4 linked regions of the Homo sapiens genome follow. The protein of the gene in region 1 purifies or fractionates together with the protein of each later gene. This does not show direct contact. Each region holds a gene or a part of one and is shown in the gene's direction. Other genes may lie near its edges.

Region 1 (3,500 bases):
ACAGGCCAGCTGGTACGACTTGTATCAACCCTCCCTCCTCCAGGTGCCGCAGACTCGCCCTTTAACCACCCGTTGAAGTCAAATGAGCCGTCTTCAGCAGAGATTTTCAGGCAAATAGCAGAGGACTGGGCAGGAACAGAAGTGGGGAAAAAATGAGCAGAGAGAGGGTGGGGGCGGCACAGGAACCGGACGGGCACTGAGCGCCTCAGCCATGCCCGCTGCACACCCAATTGTAGCTCATCCTCCCAAGATGCCTGTGTGTCTGCTCCGGTCCTCTAAGAAGCAAACAGGATTAGATGAGCAGGAAATGCACCTGGAGAAACCGTGAAGTATGAAGGGAAGGGAGCAGGGGCGCGCACAGTACAGCCTGACACCTGCGAGTGGAGACAGGGAGGGGAGGAAGGAGGGAGAGTGCAGCGAGGCCCGGGGAGCAGCTCAGCCAGCCTCTGGGGAGCCCTCGCGCAAAGCTTGCCCGTTGGAGGAGTCCTGTGTCTTGCAGGAATGGGCCAGCCCTGGTATCCCCACCACACGTAAGCATTGAGGGCAGCTCAGGGGCAGTTGCTTCAGCTCAGATGCCCAGGGGGGCAGCTGCTGGAACTGTCGGTCAACTGTGCTCCCCGCACCAGCTACTCTTCAAGAGCTGAGCAGTGCACCTCCGCAGCCACCACAGCTGGTGAAGTCACCCCGGATTTATAGCTAGGCAGGAGTGAACAGAGTGCCGGCTCTGAACTCTGGTCCGCCCTCAGAAACAGACCAGCTGATAAGACTTGTATTAATTCTCCCTCTTCCAGGTACCGCAGACTCGCCCTTAAGCACCACCCGTTGAAGTCAAATGAGCCGTCTTCAGCAGAGATTTTCAGGCAAATAGCAGAGGCCTACGACGTGCTGAGTGACCGTGAGTAGGTGTGGGGCTGAGCACCCCGCTTGATTAGGATCATTCCTTAAGTCTCTAGACTGTTGGGTTTTCTGAGGGGGCCCAATAACGAGGAAGCATCCTTCTTCCCTGCCTAGAATCTAGACACACAGAGAAGACAGAATACGGACCCGCCTTTCTCAGTAGAAGCAAGCTGAGGTGGAGGACGTGGGGTGTGGAGCCCAGGATTACACTGACTCGCTCATCCTGGCAGGCAGTGTGGGAGCTGGGGCACATTCCCCACGCATCCCTATGCCCTGCGGGGACGGGACCTTCCCCGGGAGAAACAGAGTAAGGGGCTTGCAGCTACGGGGAAGAAAGCTGAAGCTGGGCAGGCGTGCCCACCTGTCCCTCCCAGAGGTCCTTCCCAGTGGCTTAGTGTCCATTTCCCCAGGGCCAGCAACAGTAGGAAGAGGCAGAGAAAGGCCAGGAGTAATTAGGAAATCTGTCTCCTAGGGAAACCAGCAGAGTGAAGAAAGTGTGATCCCCGCCCCGGCACCCAGGGCCGTCCTGCGGGGCTTTCCCTGGGGGATTGTCCTGGAGACTAATCCTGGTTCCTGCGGAAGTGCAGCTAGAAGATCACTAAGGTTTCTACAGCCCCGAGTTTTCAGGACTTCAGGGTCCTTAGACTCTAGGATTTCGAAGTTTTAAAATTTGGAGGCTCTAGAATTCTTAGCTTCTAAAATGTCAAGGTTCTACGATTCCGTTTACCCCAGATAAGACAGTGGCTATGATGACTGAGTTAGGCCAAATCCCAGGGCCATTGCCTGAGCCTCAGTCTCTCAGTTATTCCCCCAGTCTCTCACCCTGCCCCCAGCAAACTCAAGGCTTTCCCGTCTCTCTTCTGGGCTACAGGAGCCATACCTAGGTCCTCCCAGAATGAAATGGAACGCCTGACTCCTAGGGTCTCATTCCAAAGACTGCCAGACAGCAGGCACTTTGGGATCAGGCTGCTTCTGCCCCTTCCCTTTCTCCATATCCGCCTGCTTCCCAGCCCCTCCACCTATCTCAGCCCCCAAAGTTGGACACCTCCTTAAGGTGATGCCCATCCACAGCCATGAAGAGAGGCATCTACGACAAGTTTGGAGAAGAGGGCCTGAAGGGTGGGATTCCTTTGGAGTTTGGATCCCAGACCCCATGGACAACTGGTTACGTCTTCCATGGCAAACCTGAAAAGGTGTTCCACGAGTTCTTTGGTGGAAACAACCCCTTCAGTGGTAAGAGGTCTTCCTCCCCCACCTTGCCTTATAGAGAAAGGACACTGCTATAAGTGATGTTTTCGTTGAGTAGTTTTGTTTTTATTTTTACTTTATTATTTTATTTTATTTACTTATTTTTTTTGGAGATGGAGACTCACTCTGTTTCCCAGGCTGGAGTGCAGTAGTGGGATCATGGCTTACTGCAACCTCTGCCTCCCGGGTTCAAATGATTCTCCTCCCTCAGCCTCCCAAGTAGCTGGGACTACAGGCGCACGCTGCCACACCCAGTTAATTTTTTTATATTTTTAGTAGAGACGAGGTTTCACCATGTTGCCCAGGCTGGTTTCGAACTCCTGAGCTCAGGCAATCTGCCTAAGGCCTTGGCCTCCCAAAGTGCTAGGATTACAGGCATGAGCCACCGTGCCCGGCCTATTTTTACTTTAATAAATATATATAAAACACATTGCAAAAGAAAAAGTAAAACAGAATTCATTGAAAAAGAAATACATTCCAGCCCTCCATTTTCTTTTTCTTTCTTTCTTTTTTATTTTTATTTTTTAGATGGAGTCCTGTTCTGTCACCCAGGCTGGAGTGCAGTGGCATGATCTCTGCTCACTGCAACCTCCGCCTCCGGGGTTCAAGCAGTTCTCCCTGCCTCAGCCTCCTGAGTAGCTGGGATTACAGGCACCCACCACCACACCCAGCTAATAATTTTATATTTTTTAGTAGAGACGTGGTTTCACCATGTCTGCCAGGCTGGTCTTGAACTCCTGACCTCAGCTGATCTGCCCACCTCTGCCTCCCAAAGTGCTGGGATTACAGGTGTGAGTCACCACGCCCAGCTAATTTTTGTATTTTTCATAGAGTAGAGACAGGGTTTCGCCATGTTGGCCAGGCTGGTCTTGAACTCCTGACCTCAGGTGATCTGCCCACCTCGGCCTCCCAAAGTGCTGGGATTACAGGCATGAGCCACCGTGTCTGGCCGAGCCCTCCATTTTCTTCCTCAGAAGCAGCTACTAGGGAAGCAGCTATTAGTAAACAGTTTATGTATCCTTCCAGAAACTTGCCATGCTTGTATGAGCTGTATTTATTTTTACAGAAGCCTTTTATTAAGGAAATAGGGCCAAATTTTACACAATGATTTTTTTTTTCACTTAATATATCTTGGAGATTATCTTATATGTTATACTATATATAGATCTACTTTATTCACTTACATGCAAATCTATATACTATGTACAGATCTGCATAAGATTTCATTGTACAGATGTCTATTAGGGATCCATTGCAGAAGCAAATACTGTTTTAGCCACGTGAAGCAGAAAGGGGTTCAAAACAGGGAATTAGGTGCTTTAAAAAATCACCGAGGCCAGGTGTGGTGGCTCACT
Region 2 (3,500 bases), on another chromosome or scaffold:
TAATTGTAGAAACCCAATACCTGTTTTTCTCATCTAAATTATATTTCATATTGATTGCAGATATGAGATCACTTAAAATCGATTAAATTAGCCTTTTGGCATTTAAATCATAGATGAACTTCACCATTAGAAGTAAAAAAAACTATGGAAACACCTAACATGCTCTCTCTGTTTAGTCTGGCTTTGTTTTTTTCTAATGGAGAAGTGAAAGTTTAATTTGCCTTGGTCAGAAGTCTGTTCATTTTAAATTATTCAGATTGCTGAGATGTGAAATCTTAACATTAAAGGTTTTTATGGAGAAGTGAAGTGTACGTTTGGGTAAATTATGAGAGGGTACAGAAGAAACACAGTTTTGAGAGTATTGTGACTTTTAATGTTATATTCTTGAGGGAATATATGAAAAGTATCACAGTGGTGTGGATATCTAGACATATAGAAATTGTGAGAGTCAAGAATATATATATATATATATATATATATTTTTTTTTTTTTTTTTTTTTTTTTTTTTTTTGAGACGGAGTCTCACTCTGTCGCCCAGGCTGGAGTGCAGTGGCGCGATCTCGACTCACTGCAAGCTCTGCCTCCCGGGTTCACGCCATTCTTCTGCCTCAGCCCCCCGAGTAGCTGGGACTACAGGCGACCACCACCACGCCCGGCCAATTTTTTTGTATTTTTAGTAGAGATGGGGTTTCACCATGTTAGCCAGGATGGTCTCAATCTCCTGACCTTGTGATCCACCCTCCTCGGCCTCCCAAAGTGCTGGGATTACAGGCATGAGCCACTGCACCCAGCCGAGAGCCAAGAATTTTTAAATCTGAAAAATACTAAGAGGTTGTGAGTAATTTCAGAAAATTGGAGACTACATAATCCTACTTGTATTATCATTTTATCTTTATGTTATGATAGAGTTTTATCACAGTTCTCTAAAGAAGTGGTTCTTAACTGGAAACGGTTTTGCTTCCCAGGAAACTTTATGCAATGTCTGAAGAGATTTTTGATAATCATGAATGGTGGATGGGGGTTGTGCTACTGACATCTAATGAGTATAAACCAGGGGTGCTACTAAATATTCTATAATGCCCAGGACAGTTCTGCCTAACAAAGAAGTATATGGTCCAAAATGTCAGTAGTGCTGAAATTAAGAAACTTCACTCTTAGTATTTTATGTTACATTCTTACTCTGTACTGTTTTGAATGTTTGCCTTTCTGTTGTGTACCTATTCAGAAAAAAGGATTTTAGCACTGATTATGCAAATGGAAGCTACAAATTAAAAAAGGAGAGGTCTGGGTGATAAGGCTTATTCTCAAACTTGCTTATCCCAGTTTTGGTATGTGAATAGTAGGCCTATTCAGTCAGCAAACAGGACATCTGCACTCTTAGCAAATTCTAGAGTGAAGTTATGTAGTGCCTTGGTACCTAATGTGAAAATCCTGAAGAAACATGAGTCATACCATTCTCTACATTTTCATTTTTCTTTCTTTTTTTAGCGAGAGAAGGTCTCGCTCTGTCGCCCAGGCTGGAGTGCAGTGGTGCGATCTTGGGTCACTGCAGCCTCCACCTCTTGGGCTCAAGTGATCCTCCCACCTCAGCCTCCTGAGTAACTGGGGCTACAGGCACATGCCACCACACCTGACTAATTTTTGCATTTTATTTTTTGCAGAGATGGGGATTTGCCATGTTGCCCAGGCTGGTCTTGAACTCCTGGACTCAAGCGTTCTGCCTGCCTCGGCCTCTGAAAGTGCTGGGGTTACAGGCATGAGCCACTGCGTCTGGCCCCTAGATTATTTTCTTGAGTAATATCTTAATATCATGCCATTGACATTTATTCTTTAGTTATTTCAGAGGTGGCCTTCAGAGGAAGACCTGTTTGGTAAAATTGCTGTTGAGGATATTTTACTTAAAAATAAATTTGTCTTTAAATCCAGGAAACTTTTTTTGTTGTTGTTTTTTGGGGTTTTTTTTTGTTTTTGTTTGTTTGTTTGTTTGTTTCTTTTTTTGAGACTGAGTCTCACTGTGTTGTCCAGGCCATAGTGCAGTTCTCTGTCTCTCAAGTTCAGGTGATTCTCCTGCCTCAACCTCCTGAGCAGCTGGGACTACAGGCATGCACCACCAAGCCTGGCTAATTTTTGTATTTTTAGTAGAGACGGGGTTTCATCGTGTTGGCCAGGCTGGTCTCCAACTCTTGACCTCAAGTGATCCACCTGCCTTGGACTCCCAAAGTGCTGGGATTACAGGTATGAGCCACCATGCCCGGCCAAAATCTGGGAAAAAGTTAAGTTAAACTTTTAGGCTTCTATTTTTATCAGACAGGGTAAAGAATTGTTACCTTTTCCCCTCTTTGTGTGATAAATTGCTTGGTTTTAGTTACTGATTACTTAAAATAATAGGTTACTCAAATCTTTTTGATATAATAGATTTTGATACAATAGTTCTCTAGAATACAGTGTGTGTGAGAGTGTATTTAAATTTTTTATTAATGCTGGTATAGTTGGATTTCTTTTATAAATTAGTAAAGTAGAAATTTTTGTTAAGAAATTTTTAATTTAAGATTTTCAAATTTATCTTGTCTGCAGTTAACTTGAATTAATAAGCTCTTATTTAGAGTACTTTTAATACTTTTAACATATCTTACTATGCACTGTGACTGTTTAAATGTAATCATTGTTCTGTGTCTCCAGAAGTGAATAATTTGTTTATGCATACATTTACACTGTTATCTATAAATATATAATACATCACCTATAGCCTCTCGACTGCCATGTAACTTGGAGATAGGACAAAACTTCACGGAATTTAAAGATGCTTGGTGTTGGTAGGAAAGGCATGGTAACAGATAAAGCCACTGAGAGAATAGTGGACTGAATAGGTATCTGCATTGAAGAGCAAGCTGGGGCTGGGAACGGCTTTTGAACCTCAACTCAGCTCCCAGTTACCAAGCCTCCTCCCCACCCTAACTGATGGCATATTGGGAGTCTGATTTACATCTGATTTTGTTCTGTGTGTGAGGAAGCTTCTCTAAGAGCAGCGGGATTGGGGGAAATGCAGATTATTTGTATCTGTGAAATTAAGGTTGACTGTAGTTAAAATTTTTAAAAAATCAAAATGTTTCATGATTAACAACTAAATGTTAAACTATTGGTATATTTATAACTATAGTAGAGTTGGTGATAAGGTCTGTTAAGACAGGTTTTGTTCGCTGCCGACTCCCCAGTGCCTAGAACACTGCCTGGGATGTAGTAGGTATTCAGTAAGTATTTGTTGATTTATAGGTTGTGCAGATGAGTGATGTTATAGTCAGTTTTTTCTTTCTAGGTGCAGATGCTAATTTCAGTGTCTGGATTAAAAGGTGTCAAGAAGCTCAGAATGGTATGTGGGTCTCCCTTGGTATTTGTTTCAATTTAAAAAGAAGTAAACATCTGAAATTTTTTTGGTTTAAACAAATTTGTTTTTATCTTTATAATTTCTTTTAAATAGTATACGTTTCCTTAGATGTGGACTT
Region 3 (3,500 bases), on another chromosome or scaffold:
AGGCCACATCTTAGTGGCCTTACTTTACATCTTAGTAAAAAAAAAAAATTTTTTTTCAACTGAAGTTAAGTTTTACCTTGTTACCAGATTCAGAAGAAGATGTTGTTGAAACTCCTGCAGTGTCTCATGATGAACATACACACCAAGAGATAAAGGGCCGAAAAACACTGGCAACTCCTGCAGTTCGCCGTCTGGCAATGGAAAACAATGTAAGTTCTCTTAATATTTAAGTCTGAGATTGTATAGGAAGTGTACATTTGTATCTCTGAAAAATTAGCCAACTATCCCATGATGAAATAGCTCAATGAAATTAAGGAAACATGAAGATATTTGCTACTGAAAAGCAATAGTTGCATAAAAATACATGGGAGAAATGAGAAGTTGTAAACTTATTACTTACTATCAATTGAGCAGTATGATTTTATTATTCTTTCTTAGAGCCTAATAACAGTAAGAGCTACCATTTACTGAGCACTTGTAAATACCAGGTCTTATGTCAGGTGCTCTAGAGGCACAGCATGAGATAGGAATTTGAAGGAGGGAAAACCTGTAAAGGGACTGAAGGAAGCAAGATAAAAAAGAGAAGAGAAGGGAAATTGGCCAGACATGGTTATGGTATCAAGCATCTGGCCTGTCCCAAAGCTTGCCATGGTCCTAAGTAAAAAAAGAAAGACTCTGGCCTGATCTGAGGGTGCAAGGGAGAACCACAGAATTACTGCTTTGAGGCAAGGAGGCCGGCCTTTTGTATTTCCTCTGCCAGTCATTGACTGAATGGAAGGTGGAATGCCAGGCAGGGTGGCTCCCTGGCACTGGGATAGGTATTTACGTATTCTCATTTAACCCTGTAAGATAAGGAGCTATTTTAAGACTTGGAGGGTTTAAGTAACTAGTCTAAAGTCACACAGCTAACATAGCAAGAGCCAGAATTCAAAAGTGAGTCTATATCACTCCAAAACCTGTGCTGTTAGATGTTATATAAACCTCAACAATCATTGCCTCCATTATTTGAGCACATATGTGCCAGACACTATAGACACATCTGTAATCCTCACAAGGACCCTGCAGGCAGGTTGATTAACTTATCTAAAACCAAGTAAGCTGAACTAGGGATTTGAACACAAATCTGTCTGGTTCTGAAACCTGAATACTTTCCACTGTGCCCCACAATGAGACTTTTTGTTTGTCTCTTTTTGAGAAAAGTAAGGTTGCTGTGGGAAAAAAATAAAAGTTTATATTTTGTGAAATATGTAATAGAGTCATTAAAATGTTCATATTCTTTCAGCCAGTTATCCTGCCACTGGGGAACTATCCCAAGAAAATAATCTAGGAATCATTCTTCCTTGTATTTTATATAGCCAAAAATTAGAAGATGCATACACATTCAAATTATGTTATGTATCCTTGATAAAATGTTATGTAACCCTTAAATGTGTTTAAGTATGAAGACCATTTAGCATAACAGAAAATAGATATAGTAACGTGGAACATTAGGTTATTAAGGGCATCAGATGAAATAATGATTTAACATTTTGCTTTGAAATCTATAAAGCATTTTAATAATTTTTTTCTTAATAATATAGAAAGAAATATATAGAAGAAATGTATGATTTGGCTTTCCTAAAACACTCCCTAAAGATGGGTATAGAATACTTGGGTAGAGTGCTTGTATGATTACTAAAAATTAAATATTGGATTTAGTTATCAGAAATCATCTTTTTTCTTTGAATTTGCATATTTATGAATTGAGTTTGTTTAAAATTAAGAACCAGTGGCATTTACAGTTGTTTGTAACTGCCTAAAAATTATTTGTTTAAATTTTCATAGTCCATTTGTTACAAACTTAGTGTTTGCCTTAGTAAAGTCCTTTATTATTTTAGTCATCCTTAGAGATGCACTAATACAAATGAAATGGGGCCTATCCCTAAGAAATTAATACATACTATATATGAGGAGATCATTCCAAGCTTTTATGTTTATTTTTATTTAAATAGAATTAAATGTTTTGTACTGATCTTTCCAAAGCAACTACCAGAAAAATAACTAATTTGAGAGAGCTTTTGTATTATGATTATTTAAGTTGTTACGTTTTTAACTGGTAGCCAGTGTCAGAAACATTGGTCTAAATTTGGTATAGCATTTAGTTTCTCTTAAATTCTCAGCTCTCCCTCTTCTTATGTAGTCCCCAAGAATAGAAAAGGTCGAGTAAGAATTATGCAAGAGATTTTAAAATACTTGAGTATAAAAATGTAAGTTTTCAGCTGGGCATAGTGGCTCACGCCTGTAATTCCAGCACTTTTGGGAGGCTGAGGTGAGAGGATAGCTTGAGGCTAGGAGTTCAAGACCAGCCAGGGCAACAGAGTGAGACCCTGTCTCTACAAAAAATTTTTTTAAAAAGTAAGTTTTCATAAATAGCTCTAGATTATATATAATATAGATACCTGATGGTTACCACATGCATATGTGAACAGTATATACAAAAGTAATGATTACTTAAGTAGAAAATGAAAAGGTTATTTCCTTTTACTAATTTATTGGACAGATATATTTTACTGTCAGTTGATCAAATTCCATTTTGAAACTTTAATGATGTTTTTAAATAGTTGTATTTTTGGCATTAAAATATATCATTTTTTAGATTAAGCTGAGTGAAGTTGTTGGCTCAGGAAAAGATGGCAGAATACTTAAAGAAGATATCCTCAACTATTTGGAAAAGCAGACAGGAGCTATATTGCCTCCTTCACCCAAAGTTGAAATTATGCCACCTCCACCAAAGCCAAAAGACATGACTGTTCCTATACTAGTATCAAAACCTCCGGTATTCACAGGCAAAGACAAAACAGAACCCATAAAAGGTAATGATAATAATAACAATACTATAAGGCAATAGTTCATTTATTTTGGGGGAAGCTACCTCAGTAGATAAATGTATATAATATGGTGTTTTCAAGTCTTACTGAAGGGAAAGTTCAACTTCAGTCAGCATATAATTTTTCTTTTCTTTTCTTTTTTTTTGAGATGGAGTTTTGTTCTTGTTGTCCAGACTGTAGTGCAGTGGCACGATCTTGGCTCACTGCAGCCTCCGCCTCCCAGGTTCAAGCAATTCTCCTGCCTCAGCCTCCTGAGTATCTGGGATTACAGGTGCACGCCACCATGCTCAGCTAATTTTTTGTATTTTTAGTAGAGACAGGGTTTCATCATGTTGGCCAGGCTGGTCTCGAACTCCTGACCTCAGGTGATCCACCCTCCTCAGCCTCCCACAGTGCAGGGATTACAGGCGTGAGCCACTGCGCCTGGCCATAATTTTTAAATGGTGAAATAGCATAGCTTTTCCAGGAAACACTTACAATTTATGTGTATCATTATCTTCTGAAGAGTAATACGTTAGCAGGTTTCTTGAAATATAAACTTGTATATTGATAATTGCTCTGTTTGAAGACACACAGGACATTTTAAACATTCACTATTTGTAGTTAGCTTTCAAAATAACTAGTTCTGATTTG
Region 4 (3,500 bases), on another chromosome or scaffold:
TGGCCAACATGGTGAAACCCCATCTCTACTAAAAATACAAAAAAATTAGCTGGGCGTAATGGCGTGTGCCTGTAGTCCCAGCTACTTGGGAGGCTGAGGCAGAAGAATCGCTTGAACCTGGGAGGCGGAGATTGCAGTGAGCCGAGATCGCACCACTATACCCCAGCCTAGGTGACAGAGCAGCCCTCTGTCTCAAAATAAGATAGCCACAAGTGGTTGGTGGCTGCCACATTAGATGGTGCAGGGTTTTTGTTTTGTTTTGTTTTTTGTTTTTTCGAGGTGGAGTTTTGCTCTCATTGCCTAGGCTGGAGTGCAATGGCATGATCTTGGCTCACCACAACCTCCTCTTCCTGGGTTCAAGCGATTCTCCTGCCTCAGCCTCCCGAGTAGCTGGGATTACAGGCATGCACCACCATGCCTGGCTAATTTTGTATTTTTAGTAGAGACAGGGTTTCTCCATGTTGATCAGGCTGGTCTTGAACTCCCGACCTCAGGCGACCCACCCACCTCGGCCTCCCAGAGTGCTGGGATTACAGGTGTGAGCCACCATGCCTGGCTAAGATGATGCAGTTTTATCCAGGTGGAGATGAAGAAATAGTCAGGGAAAGGTTGAGAGGCTGCATATTGTAGACAGATTGGATTACTGGGTTCACTGGGGAAGATTGGATTAGAAGGAGGAGTGGGGCTGCTTTACTTGTCCCCGACTTCTTGCCCCTGCTCTGCCCACTCCTTCATTGAATACCCTGCTGCCCTGCAGATGTGTTTGCCTGATTTTCACCTCCCTTCCTGTCTCTGTTATCATAGCAGACGTTTTAGTGCTCAGGGAAAGGAGGAGGAAGGAAACTCAGATTGTCAAGGAATTGTGAGTCAGTTTCTCAGCCACTACCCCAGGCCTGGGCTTGGCTAAGTCATTTCACCTCTCTGACCCTAGCTAGTGGGGTGAATAGAGTCCCTACCCTGTTGGAAGTCAGGAAGCCCCTGGAGCTCGCTCTGTGCTAATTATCGGTGACTATTTCTGTGACCCAGCTCTTCAGGGGCAGCCTGTCTGGGGGTTCCAGTGCCCTGTGCAGTATCTCCAAGTGGTAGGTACTCAGTGTATGTATTAGTCCGTTTTCAGGCTGCTAATAAAAACACACCCAAGACTGGGTAATTTATAAAGAAAAAGAGGCTTAATGGACTCACAGTTCCACATGGCTGGGGAAGCCTCACAAACATGGCGGAAGGCAAATGAGGAGCAAAGTCACATCTTACATGGTGGCAGGCAGACAGAGTGCTTGCAGGGGAACTCCCCTTTATAAAACCATCAGATCTCGTGAGACTTATTCAGTATAATGAGAACAGCACGTGAAAGATCCACCCCCATAATTCAATTACCTCCCACTGGCTCCTTCCCACAACATGTGGGAATTATGGGAGCTATAATTCAAGATGAGATTTGAGTGGGGACAGAGACAAACCATGTCAGTGTGTATTGTGGGATGAATGGAGATGGTCATTACAGTCTTCTAAGTGTATGGGTCCATCTCTTACTTGCTAGTGTGTTAAGAAACCTGGCCTCCTTTTTCACATCTTGAGGCACTGAATGGTTTACAAATCCAACTCTAATTTTTTATTATATTTAATACACCAATAGTGCAAGGCCTTTATTGGTAGTACTCTCCTATTACAGATGGAGAGACTGAGGCTCAGAGAGGTGAGGTCTGAACTTGGAGCTCTGGACTCCAAAACCCAGTTTCTTTTCATGGTACCAGGCTGCCAGGAGGAGAAAGGATGGAGCTTAGATTCAAGTCTTGCAACATTCTTCTTAGTCCAGTATTGGCTTATTTTGTTTTATATTTTTTTGAGACGGAGTCTTGCTCTGTTACCCAGGCTGGAGTGCAGTGGCGTGATTTCTGCTCACTGCAACCTCTGCCTCCTGGGTTAAGCGATTGTCCTGCCTCCCCCTCTCGAGTAGCTGGGACTACAGGTGTGTGCCACCGTGTCCGGCTAATTTTTATATTTTTAATAGAGACAGGGTTTTGCCATGTTGGCCAGGCTGGTCTCGAACTCCTGGCCTCAACTGATCCACCCACCTCAGCCTCCCAAAGTGCTGGGGTTACAGGCGTGAGCCACCATGTGTGGCCGGGCAGGTGATTTTTCTTGTCTTTCGCCTCTTTCCACTTCAGTCCCCCTGGCCATCTTTCCCTTCCTTGAATGTGCCTCCTCCCACCTGGTGGCCTTTGTAGGTATGAGGTCCTTCAGATGATGGCTGACATGACACTTCCTCAGAGAAGCGTTCCAGACCCCAAACACCAGGTCTCTGTCTGTGAAACAGGGACAGTGATACCTGCCTAATCTGCACGCCTTTCCCTTCTCACGAGATATTCTGGGAAGGGGGACTCAACTCTTTGCTCTGTTTGAGGGCAGAGTGCCTTTGAGCTCAGGAGAGAGTGGGTTTGGGTGGCCTTAGCTACCCTAGATACGGAGGACTTGGAGTTAACTGGCACCATCCACAAAGCCTTGCATGCACTGGACCTGAACAAGTTGCTTAGCCCTTGAGGCGGCGCCTCAGCTACCACCTGTCTTTGATGGAGTTATGATAACAGTGCCTGCCCCGTCTGGATGCCTTATGGGTTCAGTGAGCACATAGGTGTAAATAAAGTGCTTTGAGTGGCACCTCAGCATGTAGTTATTCTCTGATTGACCTATAGCAGCCATGCCAGTCTTCAGGGTCCCAGGGCGCCAGGCTTTCTTCTCTTGCCTTGGAGCCTTGGTTTTTCCCTAGGACTGAAGTGTTCTGACCCCTTGGCTGAACTCCCCCTTCTTTAGGAAGCTTTCCCTGGTGTGCCATCTGATGCTGGTGCTTCCTGGAGGGGTACTATCTGATCCTAGCTGGTGAGGCATTCCTGCCAGAGCTGCGGCAGGTGCTTTCCCCGCCTCTCCACCAGCCTGTGAGGTGGATGCCATCCCCACGAGGGCACGCAGGTTCACAGAGACTGGCTCCTGTCCAAGGCCGCGTGGCTGGAAAGAGACAGAACCAGATTCAAACACCAGCAGTTTAACCCTAGAGACCCTCATCCTACCTCCTATGTGGGTAACCACTATACATCCTGCCTCCTCTGAAATCTCCCGTTTTTTTTTATTTTAAAATTTTATGTGAGTATTTACTTATTTATTTGCTGCTGTTGTTATTGTTTTGAGACAGAGTCTTGCTCTGTTTTCACCCAGGCTGGAGTGCAGTGGTGCGATCTTGGCTCACTGCAACCTCTGCCTCCTCGGCTCAAGCGATTCTCGTGCCTCAGTCTCCCGAGTAGCTGGGACTACAGACATGCACCACCATGCCTGGCTAATTTTTGTGTCTTTAGTAGAGATGGGGTTTCGCCATATTGGCCAGGCTGGTCTTGAACTCCTGGCTTCGAGTGAACTGCCTGCCCTGGCCTCCCAAAGTATTGAGATTATAAGCATAAGCCACTGTGCCCGGCCAAAATTTTATTTATTTATTTATTTTTTTGAGATGTAGT

The links.
Region 2: the proteins of DNAJB13 (region 1) and SUGT1 purify together in Homo sapiens (affinity purification with mass spectrometry, with the first as the bait; one large-scale study listed by BioGRID). This does not show direct contact.
Region 3: the proteins of DNAJB13 (region 1) and DBT purify together in Homo sapiens (affinity purification with mass spectrometry, with the first as the bait; one large-scale study listed by BioGRID). This does not show direct contact.
Region 4: the proteins of DNAJB13 (region 1) and BCKDHA purify together in Homo sapiens (affinity purification with mass spectrometry, with the first as the bait; one large-scale study listed by BioGRID). This does not show direct contact.

What each region holds. Positions count from the first base shown.
Region 1 is NC_000011.10:73,957,526-73,961,025, forward strand, and holds part of DNAJB13 (dnaJ homolog subfamily B member 13), read left to right. Parts: intron 1-43; exon of another isoform or gene 44-329; intron 330-791; coding exon 792-895; exon of another isoform or gene 896-899; intron 900-1,011; exon of another isoform or gene 1,012-1,204; intron 1,205-1,369; exon of another isoform or gene 1,370-1,500; intron 1,501-1,968; coding exon 1,969-2,130; intron 2,131-3,500. UniProt on the Homo sapiens protein: Functions as part of axonemal radial spoke complexes that play an important part in the motility of sperm and cilia.
Region 2 is NC_000013.11:52,659,336-52,662,835, forward strand, and holds part of SUGT1 (protein SGT1 homolog), read left to right. Parts: intron 1-2,139; coding exon of another isoform or gene 2,140-2,235; intron 2,236-3,313; coding exon 3,314-3,367; intron 3,368-3,500. UniProt on the Homo sapiens protein: May play a role in ubiquitination and subsequent proteasomal degradation of target proteins.
Region 3 is NC_000001.11:100,215,335-100,218,834, reverse strand, and holds part of DBT (lipoamide acyltransferase component of branched-chain alpha-keto acid dehydrogenase complex, mitochondrial isoform 1 precursor), read left to right. Parts: intron 1-87; coding exon 88-209; intron 210-2,635; coding exon 2,636-2,852; intron 2,853-3,500. UniProt on the Homo sapiens protein: The branched-chain alpha-keto dehydrogenase complex catalyzes the overall conversion of alpha-keto acids to acyl-CoA and CO(2).
Region 4 is NC_000019.10:41,400,818-41,404,317, forward strand, and holds part of BCKDHA (2-oxoisovalerate dehydrogenase subunit alpha, mitochondrial isoform 1 precursor), read left to right. Parts: intron 1-3,500. UniProt on the Homo sapiens protein: Together with BCKDHB forms the heterotetrameric E1 subunit of the mitochondrial branched-chain alpha-ketoacid dehydrogenase (BCKD) complex.